4 linked regions of the Homo sapiens genome follow. The protein of the gene in region 2 purifies or fractionates together with the protein of the main gene of each other region. This does not show direct contact. Each region holds a gene or a part of one and is shown on either strand. Other genes may lie near its edges.

The links. The genes of interacting proteins can lie anywhere in the genome.
Region 1: the proteins of UBASH3B (region 2) and SH3BP1 fractionate together in Homo sapiens (co-fractionation; one large-scale study listed by BioGRID). This does not show direct contact.
Region 3: the proteins of UBASH3B (region 2) and MCCC2 purify together in Homo sapiens (affinity purification with mass spectrometry; one large-scale study listed by BioGRID and IntAct). This does not show direct contact.
Region 4: the proteins of UBASH3B (region 2) and INPP5D purify together in Homo sapiens (affinity purification with western blotting; one study listed by BioGRID). This does not show direct contact.

Annotation. Positions count from the first base shown.
Region 1 is NC_000022.11:37,642,024-37,647,207, forward strand, and holds part of SH3BP1 (SH3 domain-binding protein 1), read left to right. Parts: exon of another isoform or gene 1-515; coding exon 516-592; exon of another isoform or gene 593-871; coding exon 872-983; intron 984-1,074; coding exon 1,075-1,151; intron 1,152-1,603; exon of another isoform or gene 1,604-1,620; coding exon 1,621-1,765; intron 1,766-2,613; coding exon 2,614-2,682; intron 2,683-2,846; coding exon 2,847-2,937; intron 2,938-3,341; coding exon 3,342-3,487; intron 3,488-4,794; coding exon 4,795-4,906; intron 4,907-5,184. UniProt on the Homo sapiens protein: GTPase activating protein (GAP) which specifically converts GTP-bound Rho-type GTPases including RAC1 and CDC42 in their inactive GDP-bound form.
Region 2 is NC_000011.10:122,776,580-122,781,763, reverse strand, and holds part of UBASH3B (ubiquitin-associated and SH3 domain-containing protein B), read right to left. Parts: intron 4,741-5,184; coding exon 4,554-4,740; intron 2,268-4,553; coding exon 2,069-2,267; intron 1-2,068. UniProt on the Homo sapiens protein: Interferes with CBL-mediated down-regulation and degradation of receptor-type tyrosine kinases. Promotes accumulation of activated target receptors, such as T-cell receptors and EGFR, on the cell surface.
Region 3 is NC_000005.10:71,589,695-71,594,878, reverse strand, and holds part of MCCC2 (methylcrotonoyl-CoA carboxylase beta chain, mitochondrial isoform 1 precursor), read right to left. Parts: intron 1,954-5,184; coding exon 1,887-1,953; intron 1-1,886. UniProt on the Homo sapiens protein: Carboxyltransferase subunit of the 3-methylcrotonyl-CoA carboxylase, an enzyme that catalyzes the conversion of 3-methylcrotonyl-CoA to 3-methylglutaconyl-CoA, a critical step for leucine and isovaleric acid catabolism.
Region 4 is NC_000002.12:233,066,197-233,071,380, reverse strand, and holds part of INPP5D (phosphatidylinositol 3,4,5-trisphosphate 5-phosphatase 1), read right to left. Parts: intron 1-5,184. UniProt on the Homo sapiens protein: Phosphatidylinositol (PtdIns) phosphatase that specifically hydrolyzes the 5-phosphate of phosphatidylinositol-3,4,5-trisphosphate (PtdIns(3,4,5)P3) to produce PtdIns(3,4)P2, thereby negatively regulating the PI3K (phosphoinositide 3-kinase) pathways.

The sequences.
Region 1 (5,184 bases), on a different chromosome or scaffold from region 2:
GGTCTCTGATCCCAGAGCAGGCATTCCCCGTAACTCCAGATGGGGTGGGAGTGTGGGGCCATGTTTTGGAATCAGTTGACAATTCAGTGTGGCCAAGGCAAGGAAATTGGGAGCCATAGAGCGTTTGAACTCAGCGGTGGCTAGGTCAGCCATATATACCCTGGGACAGGGGAAAGAGCTCCCGCTCCCATTCTCCCTCCACCTGTGTGACCTGGGGCAAGCTCCCTGCCCTCCCTGCATCTTAGTTTCCCAGTCTGCAGTAGGACTTGGTCATTCCTTCCTGCCCAGTCAAGTGGCTTCTGGGAAGAGGAAAGGGCACGCCAGATGGAGAGGGGCTCCATCCATGCTCTCAGGGAAATGTCACCCCCACCACGCCTTGTCATCTTGTTTCCACTCTCATCTGGGACTGTGGCCCTCCTGGGTTCCCTCCTCCCCTGCCCCAAGGGGCTGGCCTGGTGCTCAGGCAGGGTGGAGGGAGGCACGGACACTCATCGCCGGCCCCACCCTCCCTGCAGAAGAAGCTTCCCCTCATGGCTCTGTCCACCACGATGGCTGAGAGCTTCAAGGAGCTGGACCCTGATTCCAGCATGGGGTGAGCACAGACGGGGCCCAGCCCTCACCTGGGGATACCAAGACGTGATCTCAGCTGGGAGGGGGTCCAGGTGGTGAGGGCATCCACATCAGAAGAATGACCAGGCTGGGGACAGTTCCCAGGTCAGTGAGGGTGGCCAGGCCTGGGAGGGTGTTCAGCTTAGCAGAGATGAAGGATATCTAGGAGGGGCCGGAAGTGAGGGAGGAGAGGCCCCACCAAGTGTTTCCAGTGGAGGTGAGGGCAGCGGGCGCCTGGACCCATGGGGTGCCGTGTCCACAGGAAGGCCTTGGAGATGAGCTGTGCCATCCAGAATCAGCTGGCCCGCATCCTGGCCGAGTTTGAGATGACCCTGGAGAGGGACGTCCTGCAGCCACTCAGCAGGCTGAGTGAGGTGAGCCTGTGCCCTGCTTTCAGCCCCCAGCTTCCCCAGCTTCTGGCTCCCTCCTCCCCCAGCACACTGACCCCCCCATGCCCATCCCCAGGAGGAGCTGCCAGCCATCCTCAAACACAAGAAAAGCCTCCAGAAGCTCGTGTCCGACTGGAACACACTCAAGAGCAGGTGGGAGCCCCAGCCGCTCAGGGGGCTCATATCTGGGTCAGCCCACAGAGATGGTCATAGAGCTTTGAGGCCCTGGCCACACCAGGAGGATGCTGTGGGGTCTGCTGAGTACAGTGTGTGTACTTGTGCACGCCTGGTCCCTAGGAGCACAGGTGGTTAGCGTATCTGTGAGGGTGTGCCCGCGTGTGTCACAGCTGGTGCTGGGGCAACCCTAAAGCCTGGGATCCTGTAAACAGTCCTGCGGCAGCCCTGTTCTCCCCTCTGTGGAGTGGCTGTGATCACCAAATCTGCCACCAGGGGGCAACCCAGAGCACTCATGGCCCAGCCTGGGCAGAGGCCCCGGCCAGTGGAGCTCTCAGATCTGCAGCTCTAAATCCTAGAATCCCATGTGGTCTGCTGTATGGAGGGGACACTTGGCTCTGGACATGCAACAGGGCAGGTGACCAGCTCACCTTGGGATCATCTCCAGGCTCAGTCAGGCAACCAAGAATTCAGGCAGCAGTCAAGGCCTAGGAGGCAGCCCGGGTAGTCACAGCCATACGACCATGGCCAACAAGGTGGAGACGCTGAAGGAGGAGGAGGAGGAGCTGAAGAGGAAAGTGGAGCAATGCAGGGTGAGGGCCATGGGGGTCCCCTGGATATGTAGGGGTGGCAGGGGTGGGTCCTGGCCCATCTCACAGGCAAGGAAGCTGAAGTTCAGAGAGGTGACATGACTTGCCTAAGGCCACGTGGCTAGGAGCCAGCAGAGCTCCGCCATTCCCTCGTAGCCTCTTCTGTCTGTACCCCATGCATAACTTGGGAAGGCAGAGACTTGGTCTGTTCCCTGAGTCTCCATGTGTTTGTTTGCTGAGCGAGCGAGTGAATGAATAAATGAAGAGTGAATGAAAGAATGACTGAATGGTGAATAACAGGTCACTGTGCAAGGCCAGGCGCGGTGGCTTACGCCTGTAATCCCAGCACTTGGGGAGGCCGAGGCAGGCGAATCATGAGGTCAGGAGTTCAAGACCAGCCTGGCCAACATGGTGAAACCCTGTCTCTACTAAAAATACAAAAACTTAGCTGGGCGTAGTGGCGGGCGCCTGTAATCCCAGCTACTCAGGAGGCTGAGGCAGGAGAATCGCTTGAGCCCAGGAGGCGGAGGTTGCAGTGAGCCAAGATTGCACCACTGCACTCCAGCCCGGGCAACAGTGTGAGACTCCGTCTCAAACGAAACAAAACAAAAAACAAGGCACTGTGCTAAGTCTATGGAGACACAGAGATGGGGACGAGAAGCCAGAAAAGTTTGAGGGAGTTCCCAGGGGCTGGCCCCAAGCACCAACCTTGGCAGAGAGAGGAGCCTGGCTGGGACCTTCCACCTGCAGTTGTGTGGCCTGGGGGAGGTCACCAACCCTTCCAAGCCTCCTCTTCCCCTCTAGACCCCACAGCCTCACCCAACGTAAGCTCTCCCCTCTCTGTCCCCAAGGACGAGTACTTGGCTGACCTGTACCACTTTGTTACCAAGGAGGACTCCTATGCCAACTACTTCATTCGTGTGAGTCCAAGACCGGGCCCCAGCCATCCAGAGTTCAGGGGCTGAATGCCAGAGCCAGGGGCCACTGGGGCTCTAAGATGGTGGAGGGGGCGTCTGCTCTCAAGGACCCTATAGAAGGCTCAGCTTCCCCCACTTCCGCTCAGGGTGTCCCTTCATCCCCACAGCTCCTGGAGATTCAGGCCGATTACCATCGCAGGTCACTGAGCTCGCTGGACACAGCCCTGGCTGAGCTGAGGGAGAACCACGGCCAAGCAGGTGGGGACATAGGCCCGGCGATACCACACCCCTGACCCTGCCCTGCTCGGGGCTTATTGAGAAGCTCGCACTTCATCCTGAAAGGTAGCAGGAAGCTGTGGATGGGTTCTGAGAGCTAGGCTCAATCTGTGATGGAGAGGCAGCTCTGGCTACTGTGTGGAGGGTGGAGTGAAGCGGGCAGGACTAGAGCCAGGCCTGTGAGGCAGAAGGAGGCAACGGTGGCCTGGACTAGGACAGAGGCAGTGGAGGCGGGCTGATTCGAGAGATGTGACGGATGATTTCAGATGTGTGCCTGGACAGTCAGTGGCAGGTGGTACCACCTTGAGGACATGAAGGGGGGGTGCCCCTGCCTGACTGCTCGGGGTGGGAAGGCCCTGGGCCGCTGATCTGTTTCATCCCTGCAGACCACTCCCCTTCGATGACAGCCACCCACTTCCCCAGGGTGTATGGGGTGTCGCTGGCAACCCACCTGCAAGAGCTGGGCCGGGAGATTGCCCTGCCCATCGAGGCCTGCGTCATGATGCTGCTTTCTGAGGGCATGAAGGAAGAGGTGGGGTCCCCTGGGGCAGGTGGGGAAGGAGCACTGGGGCCCTCATTCTGTCCCAAACCGCCCACTTGCTGCCCTTTCCGGGTGCCTGTAATTCCCTCATTCGAGCCCAGCTCCCTGGGAGAAGACATGACTGCCTCCTGCGGCATCCACACTACCTCCCCCGTGTCAATGCTCGCGTGGGCCAAGCGCTGTACTAGAAGCCTTTGCATTCCAGGCTCCATTTCACAATTTCACAAGAGGGAGACAGAGGTAGAGAGGTAACCATGCCCAGAGTCATTTGAGAAGGTGACTTCTCAAACCAGGGGCTCCACTGCCACACACTGGCTGGATCTGCTGTGAATACATTGCCCCCCTGTCCTGAAGATAGACCCTAGTGGTGGCAGATACCCCAAAACAGTTCTGCGCTGCTCAGCAATCCTGCTGTGCTGGGGCCTCCTTTCTCCCTTACACTTTTTTTTTTTTTTTTTTTTTTGAGATATGGAGTGTTGCTCTGTTACCCAGGCTGGAGTGCAGTGGCGTGATCTCGGCTCACTGCAGCCTCTGTCTCCTGGGTTCAAGCGATTCTCCTGCCTCAACTTCACAAGTAGCTGGGACTACAGGCATGCACCACCACGCCCAGCTAATTTTTGTATTTTTTAGTAGAGATGAGATTATGTTGGCCAGGCTAGTCCTGAACTCCTAACCTCAGGTGATCCACCTGCCTCAGCCTCCCAAAGTGCTGGGGTTGCAGGCATGAGCCACTGCGCCCGACCCTTTTTTTTTTTTTGAGACAGGATCTCGCTCTGTCACCCAGGCTGTAGTGCAGTGGTGCGATCCTGGCTCACTGCAACCTTCACCTCCCTGGTTCAAGCGATTGTGTCTCAGCCTCCCAAGTAGCTGGGATTACAGATGCCCACCACCATGCCCAGCTAATTTTTTTTATTTTAGTAGAAATGGGATTTCACCATGTTGGCCAGGCTGGTCTCAAACCCCTGGCTTCAAGTGATCCACCTGCACAGGCCTCCCAAAGTGCTGGGATTACAGGCGTGAGCCACTGCACCCGGCCCCTCCCTTCCACTTCTGACTGGGCTTCCATTTCCCCATGATTTTTCCCGCCTCCTCCCAGACTTCCCAGCCCTGCCCTTTGCTCAGAATTCTAGACCTTGAAGGTTGAAGCCCGTGGACACCGTGGTGCCCACACTGCCAGCCAGACCAGCGGGGACACAGGCCTAGCAAAGGCCAGTGGCACACCCCAGGCTACAAGTGCGCCAGGGTGTCCTGCCCTGCCCACCCCTCTGTGACCCTTGCCTGCCTCCTCTCGAACCCAGGGTCTCTTCCGTCTGGCTGCTGGGGCCTCGGTGCTGAAGCGTCTCAAGCAGACAATGGCCTCGGACCCCCACAGCCTGGAGGAGTTCTGCTCCGACCCGCACGCTGTGGCAGGTGCCTGATCCGGGGAGCCCTGGGCAGGAGGTTGGGGGGGAGGGGGTGCAGTGGCTTGAAACGATCCCAAGATAGCCTGGCTTTAAGACTTGATATTCTGTTGAGACTGAGGACACTCGGGTTCTTAATGTGGGGTCCATCATGAGCCCCCCGAAAATGTTTGGCATTTTTCTGGGGACAAGATGGCTAGCCTTCATTTTCTCAAAAGGGCCTACAGCCCAAAGAAACTGTCAGACCTAGACACGTTAGTGTGAACAAGGGCCGGAGGTTCCTTCTAC
Region 2 (5,184 bases):
AATGGAGGAAGACACTAAATCTACTTGATGATATCTGGTCCTGCCAACAACTGGAGAATACCAAGTTCCAGGGCAAAGACATGGTGGCCGGCTTCCCATGCTGGGTAATAAGGAGCGGGACCAGCTAAGCTGCGCAGGGTCATCCAGTTCTCCACATCCCCACCAGGGGGCCACACAACAGCAGAGAAACGAAGCCGGCCAAGTTCTTCATGACAGCAGGATCTTGGAGAGGAATTGGCTCCACCCGCGTCCCACAGGGAAAGCTGGGGCTTCGACTGCTGCTCACTCAGTATGCACTCCAAGAATCTGTGCGGCCCTGGCTGAGGCTTGCTTTTCTCATTTGTGAAGGATTTGGGTTTTGCGGCTTTGACATTAGTTTTGGTCCTTGTGGGGATTTAGTGGTTCTGACAATAACTACTGTGGGATGAGAGAAAGCCATTTCCTTGAGATTGAGGGATAAGAGCAGGAAATAATTTGCCTCTCAGTTATGCTCTTTCTCTGAAATATTAAGCTCCTATGAAATGTCAGGCTTCACTGAAGTCAGGACCCGGAGACTAGTCCCGTCGCTGAGGGAGAGGAAGAGGTGGGGGTGGGGGTTGCAAAGTCTAAAGAGGACCCCTCCCCAGGTACAGAGGGGTCTTAAGGTCCTTGTGTTCCTTCCGAGAGCACTGTGATCCTGCAGTGATACTGAGCCCCGATCCCACTCATAGGTCCCAAGTCCTGTGTGGTGCTTTTCTGGTAAAGAGGAATATGGAACAAAGGGCCTGAGATGGTGATGAAAATAGCAGCAGGGAACAATGGCAGGTGAGGGATAGGCCAAAGGCCAAAAGGCTAAGGAGCAAACTGCGGCCTTGCTCAGGTCTTCCCCCTCTCTGGCACTCCCTAAAATTAGGGGTAGGGGAATTGTACGTCTCCTCCAGCTTTGCACTCAGCACTCGGCTTCCACTGTGCATCCTGCACCATCCACTCTGGTCAGGGCAGCCTCCCCACTGTCCTCTGCTCACACCATCTCATGCCTGCCTGCCTGTGCTCCTGCCACCCGCCCGCCTGCAGGCCTTTCCTCCATTGTCCTGATCAACATCGTCCCAGGGCAAGTTTCCTTCCTTCCGTGAAGGTAGAACCACCCCTTTCTCTTTTCAGAGCTGATGTTACACAGGGCCTGGCCGGGAGAAACCACTTCTTGTTCTCTTCCCTGTAGCACTCCTCATGTAGGAGAAATCCTCATAGTAGGTGACCAGTAAGTACCTGCCAATTGTGATTTCATGCTGGAGCGAGCCAAGAGGCTCTCCCCCCACCAGATTGTCTGTCTGTTTCCCTGCTGTCATTGAGCTAAGTGAGCTTGTCCACACCTGTAGTCAGACAGGAGAGCTTTGCAAACTTCTCCCTCTTTTCACCTCCATCGTGTCTCCTGCCTTGAGCACCCCCTTAAGCTAATTCCTTTGACAGGAAATCTCAGGTGTCCTGAACTAAGAGCTCCCATGAGAAGAGCAGGAGACATTTGGAAGGGGTTACATTTTTAGACAGACTCTTGGGGCTTGGGGTCCTGTCTAATGGTTTTCAGCAAGTTGAAGGGTATTGGTTCAGTGGATTTTATTGTGATATAATACGAAGTGCTTCCACTCTTCTCTCTATCCTCTGCTACCCACTGAGAAAAGATCTGGATTGTCATGGAGTGAACAATGAGACCCAGATAAACACCTACATGGGCGGGAGCTTGGGAGGGAGAAAGGATGTTTCTTTAATTCTGAATTAGGAGGAGATGGTGGTGCTACAAAGAAATACATTTCTAGTTCAGTATGGAAGTCATTTGTGAAACTTCAACTTGGGTGTTAGGGAATAAGCCTTAGACGGTCTCTCCAGGTCAGCAGAAGAGGGGTTGAACGTTTTTACAAGGGAGCAAGACGTGGGGTGCTGCAGGAAAAGGCTGTTTTTTTGTCACACGTCCATTCCTGCAGGGTCCTCCACCTCCTGACCCCATCCTGCTCCTCTACCACTATTTCCTATCCTTTTTCCTTTCCAACTCTTTGATTGACAGGGCCCAGGGCTGGCCTGGCAGCTGTTTGCTCACCGGTTTTGGATGCAGCCTCTGCAGCAAAGTCAGCAGCAAACTTCTTGAGGACCTCCGCACTGTCTTCCTTTACAAAGAGGCCGATGAAGTTGGACGACGTATAGAGCTCCAGGGGCAGCGGGGCCGAGAACTTACATTTCCAGCGACTGACCGTGGTCTGCAGGGCTTCCCCCAGGGCATCCACCTTGCTGTCCTCGCACTGGCAGGGAAAACAGGCAGTCTTCACTCAGAGACAAGGGGAGATGGAAGTCTGCTGCTACTTAACATTGGCATCCTCTCCCCAGAGACTGGAGGAGGCTGATAATGCAATTACTTAACCACTACCCCTGTCTGTGGGGAGAGAGGAACTGCAGACTTCCAATTATTCAGACACAGATTACCCAACTGGTGGATTAATGTGGGGAACACATGACCTCTTCCCTCCTTTCCTTGCTGTGAAGTGGCCCCCGTGAACCCAGCCAAAATGCTGCAGGACTGGTTGAGCCGAAAGCAAGAAAGGGGAGCGAGATTGGGGAGATATTGGTCAAAGGACGTAAAACTTCACTTAGGAGAAATAAGTTCAAGAGACCTATTGTACAGCACAGTGACTATAGTTCATCATAACATATTATATGCTTGAAAATTACTAAGAGAGTAGAGTTTAAGTGTTCTCACCACAAATGCCTGATAAGCATGCGAGGTAATGCATGTACAATTAGCTTGATTTAGGCACTCCACAATGCATACATATATTCAACCATCATGTTATACGCCATAAATGTATATAATTTTTATCAATTAGAAAAAAATCAGGCTGGGCGCAGTGGCTCATGCCTGTAATCCCAGCACTTTGGGAGGCTGAGGCGGGCAGATCACTTGAGGACTGGAGTTTGAGACCAGCCTGACCAACATAGTGAAACCCCATCTCTACTAAAAATACAAAAATTAGCCAGACATGGTGGCGGACGCCTATAATCCCAGCTACTTGGGAGGCTGAGGCAGGAGAATCACTTGAACCCGGGAAGCAGAGGTTGCAGTGAGCCAAGATCACGCCACTGCACTCCAGCCTGAGTGACAGAGAGAGACTATATATCCATAAAAAAAAAAAAGAAAAAGAAAAAAAAAATCAAAGTTCTCCTTGCTTGTGAAAAAAAAAAAAAAATGAAGGAATGTGACAGGAGAGAGTGCAGCATCCCAGGAGAAGCTGCGTGTTTTCTACTATTTTGTATCATCTGTACTTTTCTTTTCCTCTTAGATGATCAGAAGTTGACTCTACATCCACCCTCATGATAGTTGGGAAGAATGAGTCCCAGAGAGCTGTGACATCATCCTCCTACCTTCCTGAGAGCATTGGAAAAAAGAATGAACGTCTCTCAAACTCTGAAGGGTTTTGAGAAAGATCCTGGGATGACTAAGAGGAAATGACAGTCACTTTAATTTTCAGAGTGAATGGTAAAAGAGAAGGTGTTAGGAACATTATTATTACCTGAGAGAGAGAAAAAGAGAGAGAATATATCTGGGGAAGAAAGCAAAATATTTTTTATAAAAATGGTTTAAAATGCTACCACTTTGTTTGGTCTTGAATATATGGAGATAAATCAACTCTTCTCTATTACCACAGAGAGCTAAAGTAGACAAAATGTATTTACATGTGTGATAGTGAGGGGGATTATATTTGGTCAGTAGAGGCCAGGCATGGTGGCTCATGCCTATAATCCCAGCACTTTGGGAGGCTGAGGTGGGCGGATCACTTGAGGTGAAGAGTTCAAGACCAGCCTGGCCAACATGGTGAAACCCCGTCTCTACTAAAAATACAAAAATTAGCCGGGCATGGTGGCATATGCCTGTAATCACAGCCACTTGGGAGGCTGAGGCAGGAGAATCGCTTGAATTCGAGAGGTGGAGGTTGCAGTGAGCCGAGATCATGCTGCTGCACTCCAGCCTGTGTGACAGAGTGAGACTCTGTCTCAAAACAACAACAACAACAAAAATTGGTCAGTAGATAAGCTTTCTGACAGCTAGGATTATACACTAGGTAACAATGGCAAGTAAATATCTTTGCATTCTCTAGAAATATATAGCGGGAAAAAAAAAACTTGTGGACAGGAAATGGCTTTCCCTGTCTATAAACTGCCTTTGTTGTTCCCTGCTCTTAGTTCCTCCTCTTTGCTTGTCGTAAGAGTGGAGAGGGTAGACAGCAAACAGGTGTGAAGCTAGATCAGTGATTCTATTCCAGCAGCCAGACCAGTGTGTCCCTCACAGAGGGTTACAATCTGGTGCTGCCCCCATCCTGGGGTGCTCCTGGGCCTCAGCAGATAAAACTAGGAAGCGTTGGGGTGAGGGGCCCATTGTGGACCTCACTGATCCCTTGAAGGTCCCTCCAGCTGTAGGAGCCTGTGACTATTCCTGCTGTCTTCCTGCGAGGCCTCCCTTTGCTCCAGGTCCCAAAGGGCCGGCTGGGATCCTAGGAGCCAGGCTTCCCAGGGGTGGGGGCGCTGCCGCTCACCATAAAGAACTGGCAGAGTGTGATGTGGGGGAAGATGTTGTGTGCCTTGTTCTTCCCGCAGATCTGCTTCGACTGCTGCCAAAAGTCGGAAAGCTTCTGTGCTAAGGGGCCGGTGGGACGGAGGTAGAGGACGTACTCCCGGGGCAGGGGGTCATCCAGGAAGGGGTCACCGACATGGGAGAATAACCTGTAAGACAGAAGTAAGCCAACAAGGTGTCGCTTGAGAATAATGGGAGGGGAAAAAAGAACTGAGAGACAGATCCACCCTCCATGTGCTCCAAATCCCCGGCACAGCGCGGGGAAGGGTTTTCATTCATGATTTAAAAATCTACTTCTGGAAACTCACACTTCATAACCAATTCTCAGATGCAGCAACTTCTGTCTTCCTTCTTGTCATTTTGCCTCCTCATCCTACAACTCCCTAAAAAAGTCCTAAAACCGCTCTCCAGGAAGCATTCTTGGATCAACTCCAAATCCTTTCCCAATCCACTAGGACCAACCCAGCCTGTCCCTCAGGTCAGCCTGTAATTAAACCCATGTCCCTCCAAAGACAAGGGAAGCTCCCAGAGAGGTAACCTTGTAGGACCCACCCTGGGTAGGGATACCCTGGAAGATAAGTAGGGTACTTTTC
Region 3 (5,184 bases), on a different chromosome or scaffold from region 2:
TCACTCTTTAGCAATTCTGTCTAGAGTGGGGCCTTACAATTTGGAGCAGCTGGTGAATTCTGGTTTTATTAGGAAGAACCAGAAAGAGGGTTATCCTTGATGCAGGCTCACAGAGCACATAATTAAGCTCCCCTGACATTTAATTCTTGGCAAAGCTGTGACAGCCAAGTTTGTCCTTTCCCCCTTCTCCCTACCTCCTTCCCCAGGGAGTCCGGCTCAGTCCTCTACCCTCCTGTGGCCACCAGCCTGCACCACGGTTCCTCAGCATCCACCATCCCCAGCAGGCACCTGATGCCACAGGACTCCTCAACCCTCCATTGAGTCAAACCCACCTCTTTTTTTTTTTTTTTTGAGACGGAATTTCGCTCTGTTACCCAGGCTAGAGTGCAATGGCACCATCTTGGCTCACTGCAACCTCCGCCTCCCAGGTTCAAACAATTCTCCTGCCTCAGCCTCCCGAGTAGGTGGGATTACAAGCATGCGCCACCACACCCAGCTAATTTTGTATTTTTAGTAGAGACAGGGTTTCACCATGTTGCTCAGTCTGGTCTCGAACTCCTGACTTCATGTGATCCGCCCACCTCGGCCTCCCAAAGTGCTGGGATTACAGGCGTGAGCCACTGTGCCTGGCCCCAAAACCCACCATCTTAATGTCTAAGGGGGACAGTGAGTTCACCAAATCAAACTCTCAAAATGGGCATAACAATTGAGTTATCACCCCTAACAAAACACTTTCATTTCAGCAAGAGTTTGAATTCTTTTTCTGGAGACAACACCTTGATCTAAAATGGCTTCAAAAGTATGAATTCCATAGCTGCGTACAGGGGCACAGGTACAGTCTCAGCTACTTGGGAGGCTGAGGCAAGAAGATCACTTGAGCTCCCGACTTCGAGTCCAGCCCGAGCAACAGAGTGAGGAGACCCTGTCTCTAAATAAACTAGTAAATAAGCAATTCTAGACCATACTTTCCAAATCCAGTCTTCTTCACTATTTTTATACTCCTGAGATCCAGTATTTAAACTACTCTAACCTAAATGTAAAATTTTACATTAAAAGTATTATATACAATTTTAAGTATTATATACTTGTTGATAAAAGTTATCTGAAACAGTCTATCAAATATGAAGAATGCTTTCCATCTGAGATTCAGCACTTAGGGAGGAAATATTAAATGCCTACTAAGAAATCACTGGCCAGGTGTGGTGGCTCATACCTGTAATCCCAGCACTTTGGGAGGCCAAGATGAGAGGATCGCTTGAGCCAGGGGTTCAGTCCAGCCTGGCAATAGAGCAAGAACCCATCTCTTAAAAAAAAAATTAATAAAAATTAAAAATAAATTATTTATTCATAAAATTTATGAATTTGAATCTTTACTTTTCCCCCCAAAAGTGGTAGTACTCTATGAAGAGAAAAACTGGCCAAGTAATAGGAAAAATAAAATTAAATGCCTGCATACCAACAAATGCATAGTCTTAAGAGTCAAAAGCTCAGCCAGGAGTAGTGGCTCACGCCTATAATTGCAGCACTTTGGGAGGCCAAGGCAGATGGATCACTTGACATCAGTAGTTCAAGACCAGCCTGGCCAACATGGTGAAACCTTGTCTCTATTTAAAAAATACAAAAATTAGACAGGCATGGAGGCAGGCACCTGTAATCCCAACAACTTGGGAGGCTGAGGCAGGAGAATGGCTTGAACCCAGGAGGCGGAGGTTGCAGTGAGCTGAGATGGCGCCACTGCACTCCAGCCTGGGCAAGAGAGCAAGACTCCATCTCAAAAAAAAAAAAAAAATATCAAAAGCTTAATTCCAGTATTTTTCCTAAAAGCAATAACTATTTTAGGACATCTTAAGTAAAGGCATAAGCTGTGGAATAAATGCTGTGTTTACCTAGTTTTATATGCTCCACTCGTTCATGGAGCTGATTTACTAGTGCTTTCATCTGCTTGTAGTTCTCCTAAAACAGAAATAGAGGAGACAGGGGAGAGAAATATTAGAAAGCAATTCCTTTTTACCAAAATAAAGGTCAAAAAAAAAAAAAAAACAGTGGTCTGTGCCAACTCTGTGTGGCCGCCACACTGGGCCACCCCATCTGTGGCAGCCACGCTGGGCCACTGGATCGTATGGAAAAGATTCACCCCTGCCTGTCTTGTTCAAGCTCTTCTTCACCACCCCACTTGTCCATCTCTCCATATCTTACTCCTCTGTAAGCCTAATTCATGTTTTATCTCATCTTCAACTCTACTTCTGGCCACTCCTACTCAATTTAACATCTTTCTTCCTTAAACACCTTCTGAACTTAAACTGATCTCTATTTGTTTTCCTATTTTAAGGAATATAAGCTTTTTGAAGGTTAGAATACCATCTTATTTTTCCTGTCCCATCAGTCACTATCTGAGATTCCAACCAATGCTTGCTTACTGACAAAGTACACTTAAAAACAAATCCCAGAGGGAGAAAAAGGATCTTATTTTTATTTTTAATTTTGTATTTTTATTTTTTGGGACAGAGTCTCCCTTTGTTGCCCCGGCTGGAGTGCAATGGTGCAATCTCGGCTCACTGCAACCTCCGCCTCCCGAGATCAAGCGATTCTCCTGCCTCAGCCTCCTAAGTAGCTGGGACTACAGGTGTGTGCCACCATGCCCAGCTAATTATTGTATTTTTAATAGAGACCGGGTTTCGCCATGTTGGCCAGGCTGATCTCAAACTCCTTACCTCAAGTGATTTGCCCATCTCGGCCTCCCAAAGTGCTGGGATTACAGGCATGAGCCACCGCACCTGGCCAAGGATCCTATTTTATGTTTTAAAAAGAACAGGCTGAGTGTGGTGGCTTATGTCTGTTATCCCAGAGCTTTGGAAGGCGGAGGCAGGAGCATCGCTTAAGCCCAGGAGTTTGAGACCAGCCTGAGTAACATAGGGAGACTTCCATCTTTACAAAAAGAATAAAAATAAAAAGAATAAAAATTTAAAAATTATCTGGGCATGGTGGTGTGTCCCAGCGACTTGACCAACTAAGGTGGAAGGATCTCTTGAGCCCAGGAGTTTGAAGCTGCAGTGAACTAGGATCGTGCCATTGTACTCCAGCCTGGGTGACAGAGCAAGACTGTTTCAAATAAATAAATAAATTAGTAAAAAGAACAAAACTCGGCCAGCCGTGGTGGCTCACGCCTGTAATCTCAGCACTTTGGGAGGCCGAGGCGGGCAGATCACCTACGGTCGGGAGTTCGAGACCAGCCTGACCAACATGGAGAAAACTCGTCTCTACTAAAAAATACAAAATTAGCCAGGCAAGGTGGTGCTTGCCTGTAATCCCAGCTACTCGGGAGGCTGAGGCAGGAGAATCCCTCGAACCCGGGAGGCGGAGGTTGCAGTGAGCCAAGATTGCATCATTGCACTCCAGCCTGGGCAACAAGAGCAAAACTCCATCTCAAAAAAAAAAAAAAAAAAACAGAACAAAACTCTATGCTGGCATATATACACAAATTAAGTAATACACAAGGAAATATTGACAGTGAGAAGTAGAAAAGAGGTAGAGGGACTAACTTTTCACCCTTCTGTATTTTTAAATTTTGTTTGGTCAGCATATTACTTTAGAACAATACTTAACTAGCTAATTATCTTTGAAATTCAGACTTGGCCCACTAATACATTTTGCTCCCCATGTGATTAGCATCTCTAGTTATTTAGTTCCTTCTGTTTGACAGAACACTAAGCAACTTCCTAACTGTTCAAACTTAGATGAATATTCAGTCTACAGTATATCTCCATTATTTCCTATTTTCTACAGCTCCAAGAGCTCTGAGGGTCATGATTTCTGCTACATTCTCTTGCTCTGCAAAATCCAGAAAATAAAAAACAAGGAAGCAGCATGGTATTAGGGAAAGAACCAGTTGGAGCTAACACAATATACAGAACTTGTCACCCTACAACAGCAGAAAAAAGTATGTAACTTTTCTCAAGTGCACAGGCAACATTCTCCAAGATAGACTACATGTCAGGCCACAAAACAAATCTTAATAAATTTTAAAAGACTGAAATCATACAAAGTATCCTTTTTTTTTTTTTTGAGACGGAGTCTGGCCGTGTCGCCCAGGCTGGAGTGCAGTAGCACAGTCTCAGCTCACTGCAACCTCCGCCTCCCGGGTTCAAGCGACTCTCCTGCCTCACACTCCCAAGTAGCTGGGATTACAGGCGTGCGCCACCATGCCCAGGTAATTTTTTTATTTTTAGTGGAGACAGGGTTTCACCATGTTGGCCAGGCTGGTCTAGAACTCCTGACCTCAGGTGATCCACCAGCCTCGGCCTCCCAAAGCGCTAGGATTACAGGCCTGAGCCACCATGCCTGGCCCAAAAGTATCCTTTCAATCACAATGGAATGAAACTAGAAATCAATGGCAGAAGGATGACTGGAAAATTCACAAATATATGGAAATTAAACAACGTACTTTTAAGCAACCAGTGGGTCAAAGAAGAAAAGCACTGACCCACTGAAGCTGACATTTGCCTCTACAGACTGGGCAACATCTGTGCCAAGCTCAGCCCATCAGACTTAAATCACAGAAGAGCCAGTACTGGCTACAGTTCACCTCCCAGGCAATCCTTTATCAACCAACCTAGCCTCCTTAGGATGAGACTCACTAACCAAGAGGCAGTGTAGTTTAGTGGCAAAACCAAGTTCAACTTTCAGTTTCCCTACTTACTGATACTGCATTTGGCAAATCTTGATCTCTCAGGACGCCAGGTGTTTGTGTTTGTGTGTGTGTGTGTGTGTGTTTTAATCACCTGCGAAACAACATTCTACAACCTAGTAATTTTCTTGTGAAGCTGAGCAACCACAGAGGTTAGTGCCTGACAGTCATAATGAATTGGAGCTGAGCCACTGACAAGTTTCCCACCCCATCTTTTCAACCATAGAACCCACCTAGGTAGAGCTGGGTGAGTGAGAAGCATTATAGAGCAACAGTTAAGACCCTGGACTCAAGAGTTATGAGCCAGACCACCTGGCTTCAAATTCAGGCTCTGTGTTATCTCAGACAAATTTCTTGGACCCTATATACCACAGTTTTCCCATCTATAAAACAGAAATAACAATTGTACCTACTGCACAGGATCATTATGATAAATACATGAGTAAAACCACATAAAGCCTTTAGAAAAATGGTGGGTACACTATAAAATTCCTGCCATT
Region 4 (5,184 bases), on a different chromosome or scaffold from region 2:
AGGGTAAAGGAATGTTATTCAGTAAGAGGTTTTGGGAAAGATGATTAGCTGAGAAAAATACACATAAATCTTTTTTTTTTTCCTTTTTTTGAGGCAGAGACTCACTCTGTGGCCCAAGCTGGAGTGTAGAGAGGCACAATCTTGGCTCACTGCAACCTCTGCCTCCTGGGTTCTAACAATTCTCCCACCTCAGCCTCCCAGGTAGCTGGAACTATAGGCACACACCACCACGGCAAGCTAATTTTTATTTTTATTTTTTTTGTATCTTTAGTAGAGACAGGATTTCACTATGTTAGCCAGGATGGTCTTGATCTCCTGACCTCTGGTGATCCGGCCGCCTCGGCCTCCCAAAGTGCTGCAATTACAGGTGTGAGCCACTGTGCCCAGCCTAAATCTGTATCCTGCATCATTTGTTAAATTAATTCCAGAGAGATTAAATGGTTCAATGTAAAACAAACAAACAAAAACAAAAGTAAAAAACCCATAACTGCTTCATTTGTTTTTACCAAGTACTGTGCTAAAAACATGATACATATTTTCCATCCAATCTGCCCCACAACATTACCACATAGGTATTCTTAGCACTGGTTTTCGAAAGGGGAACCAGGGCCCAGTGGAATTAAATAAACTGCTGGATCCTGGCCGGGCGCGGTGGCTCACGCCTGTAATCCCAGCACTTTGGGAGGCCGAGGCGAGCGGACCACAAGGTCAGGAGTTTGAAAGCAGCCTGGCCAATATGGTGAGACCCCGTCTCTACTAAAAAATACAAAAATTAGCTGGGCATGGTGGCGGGAGCCTGTAATCCCAGCTACTCGGGAGACTGAGGCAGAAGAATCACTTGAACTGGGGAGGCAGAAGTTTGCAGTGAGCCAAGATCACACCATTGCACTCCAGCCTGGGTGACAGACAGAGACACCATCTCGAAAAAAAAAAAAAAACCTGCTGAATCCTTAGCCCAAGTCTATTAGCTCCAAAGTCTCTGTCATAACCCACCTGCCTTGTACAAGAAGAAACAAGTGAATTTCTGTGTGCAGAGGGATTCTCTGCATTGAAAAGCGAAGGGAGAAAAAAGGAAAAGACTGAGAGACTTCACTATATAAAAATTTACAGTCCCTGAATGTCAAAAAAAAATCATAAAACTTAAAGGAAAATCACAATGAAAATATTTGCAACAAGTGTGATATAAACTTGTGCAAGTAGATAACAGAAAAACTATAGCTTCGATAGAAAAATGGCAAAGAGAATTGAACAGACCATTCACGAAAGAGGGATTATGAGGGTCAATAACTCTATCAAATAAGCTCAACGTGACCACAATCAAATGCAAATCAAAATGAACATTCACCACCTTCACCTTGCAATGTATTGTGTTTTGAAATGAAAATATTCAGAATAGGAAGGTTAGAATGAGGCGGGCACTCTCTTGTACAGCTTACTGGTGCATATATGGAAAAAAATTTCTGGAAAGCAATGTATCATTCTGTATCAAGAGCCTTAAAAACATTCCTGTCCCTCGATCTAGTAATTCCACTCCTCGGAATCTATAACCAGACATGTTTATAACATTTCTGCAAAAGACCTTCATCAGTCATATTTATAACAACAAAATGCTGTTGATAACTTAAATATCTGATAATAGAAGAATCATTTCATGAAGTGTCGCACATCATGTAATAGAATCCTGTACATCCATTAAATATGATCATTAGGAAGAAAACCTAACTAAATGGGAAAATGCTAATGCTGCTAGAAATCTCAGACTAAAATTAAAATATGATATTTAGGAAGAAATTCTAACTAAATGGGAAAATGCTAATGCTGCTAGAAATCTCAGACTAAAATTATACATATACATGTAATACATGTATATACAAAATGGAAATTACATACATACAGGGAGGTAGAGAGAAGAAGAAGATACACCAGTGAATTAACAATGGTTATTCTAGTGTCTCAGTGATGGGGTGGTTACTTTTCTGCTTTTTGCTTTGTACTTTCTGTGCTTTGTATAAATACCATTTTTTAAAGTGACTCTAAAGAACAGGACATTGCTGTTTATCAGATCTATTTGTTTCTCCATTGCCACTGACAGCTGTGTGGTCCAGCAAGCCTCTCTGCTCCGGGGAGGTCCCAAATGATCTCTCGGGGACAGCCCTCCGTGGGGTTGTTTACAGTAAGTATTGAACCCAAACTGTTAGGGGCCTGCACTTGTTAATATCGTGTTTTCCTAATGAAAGGGGACAACAGGAGCCTGAAGTGAGCAGGGGAGAGAATCTGGTCCCCACGTGCTGCCGCACCTGTCAAGCCTGAGTACCCCCGTCATGGAACATGCTGTGCTCCTTCCATCGTCCTCAGCCCCAGGACTTCAGTACCCTCTGCACCCACCCCCTCAATTGGAGCCCAGTGGTCTTCAGATGCCTGCCTTTCTTCCTGATGTCATGTTCATTGCCCCTGGTTTCACTCTGTGTGCCTCTGTGCCCCCATCCCTTCCTCCTGCTGGCTTCCAGGCTCCCAGCCCTGTCCCCAGCAGCCTCCGTCACAGGGGCATCACTCAGTCCTCTTCCTGCTTCCATCTCTCTGAGTGCTTCCTCCAAGGAGGCCTCAAGTGACAACTCAGCATCCCCCAGAGGCCTCCAGGAAGTTTCCTAAGCAATCCTCTGCCCCCATTCTCTTCTCTCCTCTGTATGGAATGTTCTTCACAGATGGGTCCTGTACTCCTCTGCTTCTGAGATGTCACTAGTCACTTTTAGCTCATAAAGACTAATTGCCAGCACGATTTTTTTTTTTAGACGGATTCTAGCTCTGTCGCCCAGGCTGGAGTGCAATGGCACGATCTCGGCTCACTGCAACCTCCACCTCCTGGGTTCAAGCAATTCTCCTGCCTCAGCCTCCCAAGTAGCTGGGATTACAGGCACCCGCCACCATGCCCAGCTAAATTTTTCGTATTTTTAGTAGAGACAGGGTTTCACTGTGTTGGCCAGGCTGGTCTCAAACTCCTGACCTCATGATCCTCTTGCCTCAGCCTCCCAAAGTACTGGGATTACAGGTGTGAGCCACCACACCTGATCACCAGCATGATTTTTTTTTTTTTTTTTGAGACAGAGTTTCACTCTTGTTGCCCAGGCTGGAGTGCAAGGGTGCCATCTCGGCTCACCACAACCTCTGCCTCCCAAGTTCAAGCAATTCTGCTGCCTCAGCCTCTCGAGTAGCTGGGATTACAGGCATATGCCACCATCGCAGGCTAATTTTGTATTTTTAGTAAAGATGGGGTTTCTCCATGTTGGTCATGCTGGTCTTGAACTCCCGACCTCAGGTGATCCACCCACCTCGGCCTCCCAAAGTGCTGGGATTACAGGCATGAGCCACCTTGCCCAGCACCAGCATGATTTTTATGTGTGCAAAGCATTCGGTGGGTGCTTACCACATGCCTGGACTTGGGCTGTAAATGTCACTCACATCTTTCCATTTTGTCCTCTTGATAACCCAAGGAAACAAGGAAAAGACAAACAACCCTGTTTTCTAAATGTACAAAGGATCTGAATTGACTTTTCTCCAAATACAAATGGCCATTAACCATGAGAAAAGACGTTTGGCATCATTAGCCATTAGAGAAATGCAAATTAAAACCACAATAAGACATCACTTCACACCCACTAGGATGGCTATAATAAAAAAGATAATAACAAGTGCTGGTAGGGAAGTGGAGACATTGGAACCCTCAGATGTTGCTAGTAGGAATGCAAAATGGTGGATCCACCAAGGAAAACAGTTTAGCTGTTCCTCAAAGTGTTAGACTTAAATGACCCAGCAATTCTGCTCCTAGATATAGACCCAAGAATATTGAAAATATATGTTTGCACAAAACCTTGTATATGAATGTTCATCACAGCATTATTCATTATAGCCCAAAAGTGGAAACAACCCAAATGCCTGTCAACTGATGAATGGATAAACAAAATGTGGTTCTTTCAATACAGTGGCTCATTAGTCAGCCCTGGAGAGGAGTGATTCATGCCACAACACAGATGAAGCTTGACAGCATTGTGCTCAGTGAAAGAAGCTGGCCCCAAAGTCCACATGTTGTATGTTTCCAGTTATGAAACATCCGGAAAAGATAAATCCATAGACAAAAAGTCATTTAGTTGCTGCCAGGGTTTGGGTGGAGAGGGAATAGGGAGTGACTGCTGTGGGTACAGGGTTTCTTTTCTTTTCGAGGTATTGAGAATGTCCTGGAATCAGACAGTGGTGTTGGTTTCACAACATTGTGAATGCACTAAAAGCACGATAAAGAATTGTATACCAGGGCCAGGTGCAGTGGCTCACGCCTGTAATCCCAGCACTTTGGGAGGCCTAGGCGGGCAGATCACCTGAGGTCAGGAGTTCGGGACCAGCCTAGCCAACATGGTGAAACCTCGTCTCTACTAAAAATACAAAAATTAGCTGGGTGTGATGGGAGGCACCTGTAATCCCAGCTATTTGGGAAGCTGAGGCAGAGGATTGCTTGAATTCAGGAAGCGGAGGTTACAGTGAGCCAAGAACACACCATTGCATTCCAGCCTGGGCAACAGGGGTGAGATGAGACTCTGTCTCAAAAAGAAAAAAAAAAATTAGCCGGGCATGGTGGCATGCGCCTGTAATCCCAGCTACTCAGGAGCCTGAGGCAGGAGAATCACTTCAACCCGGGAGACAGAGGTTGCAGTGCGCCGAGATCATGCCACTGCACTCCAGCCTGGGCAACAGAGCAAGACTGTCTTGGAAAAAAAGAAAATTAAGAATTGTACACCATAGAAAGGGTGACTGTATGGAATATGAATTATACCTCAATTTGAAAAAATAACCCAACGAGTGGGCTTTGGCCTTGTCATCCTCATTCCACCTGTGAAGATGCTGGGTTGACACAGGAAGGTTAGCATTTTGCAAATGCAGCCCAGCAGAGCCAGCAGACCACAGAGCCTTGCTCCTCAGGAGTGCACAGCATGGCACGAATTATTGAGGGAAGAGCAGAGCTCCTCTCACTCTATGTCTGGGGTGGGGAGAAATGCCTGGCTGTGAGGACCACATGTCATCATGACGCAAGGGTTCATGTGCAGGGAGATGGCACCAATTGATTGAGAGGTGCTGATGTGAGGCTGCGTGCAGCGGCTCACACTTGTAATGCCAGCACTTCGGGAGGCCAAGGTGGGA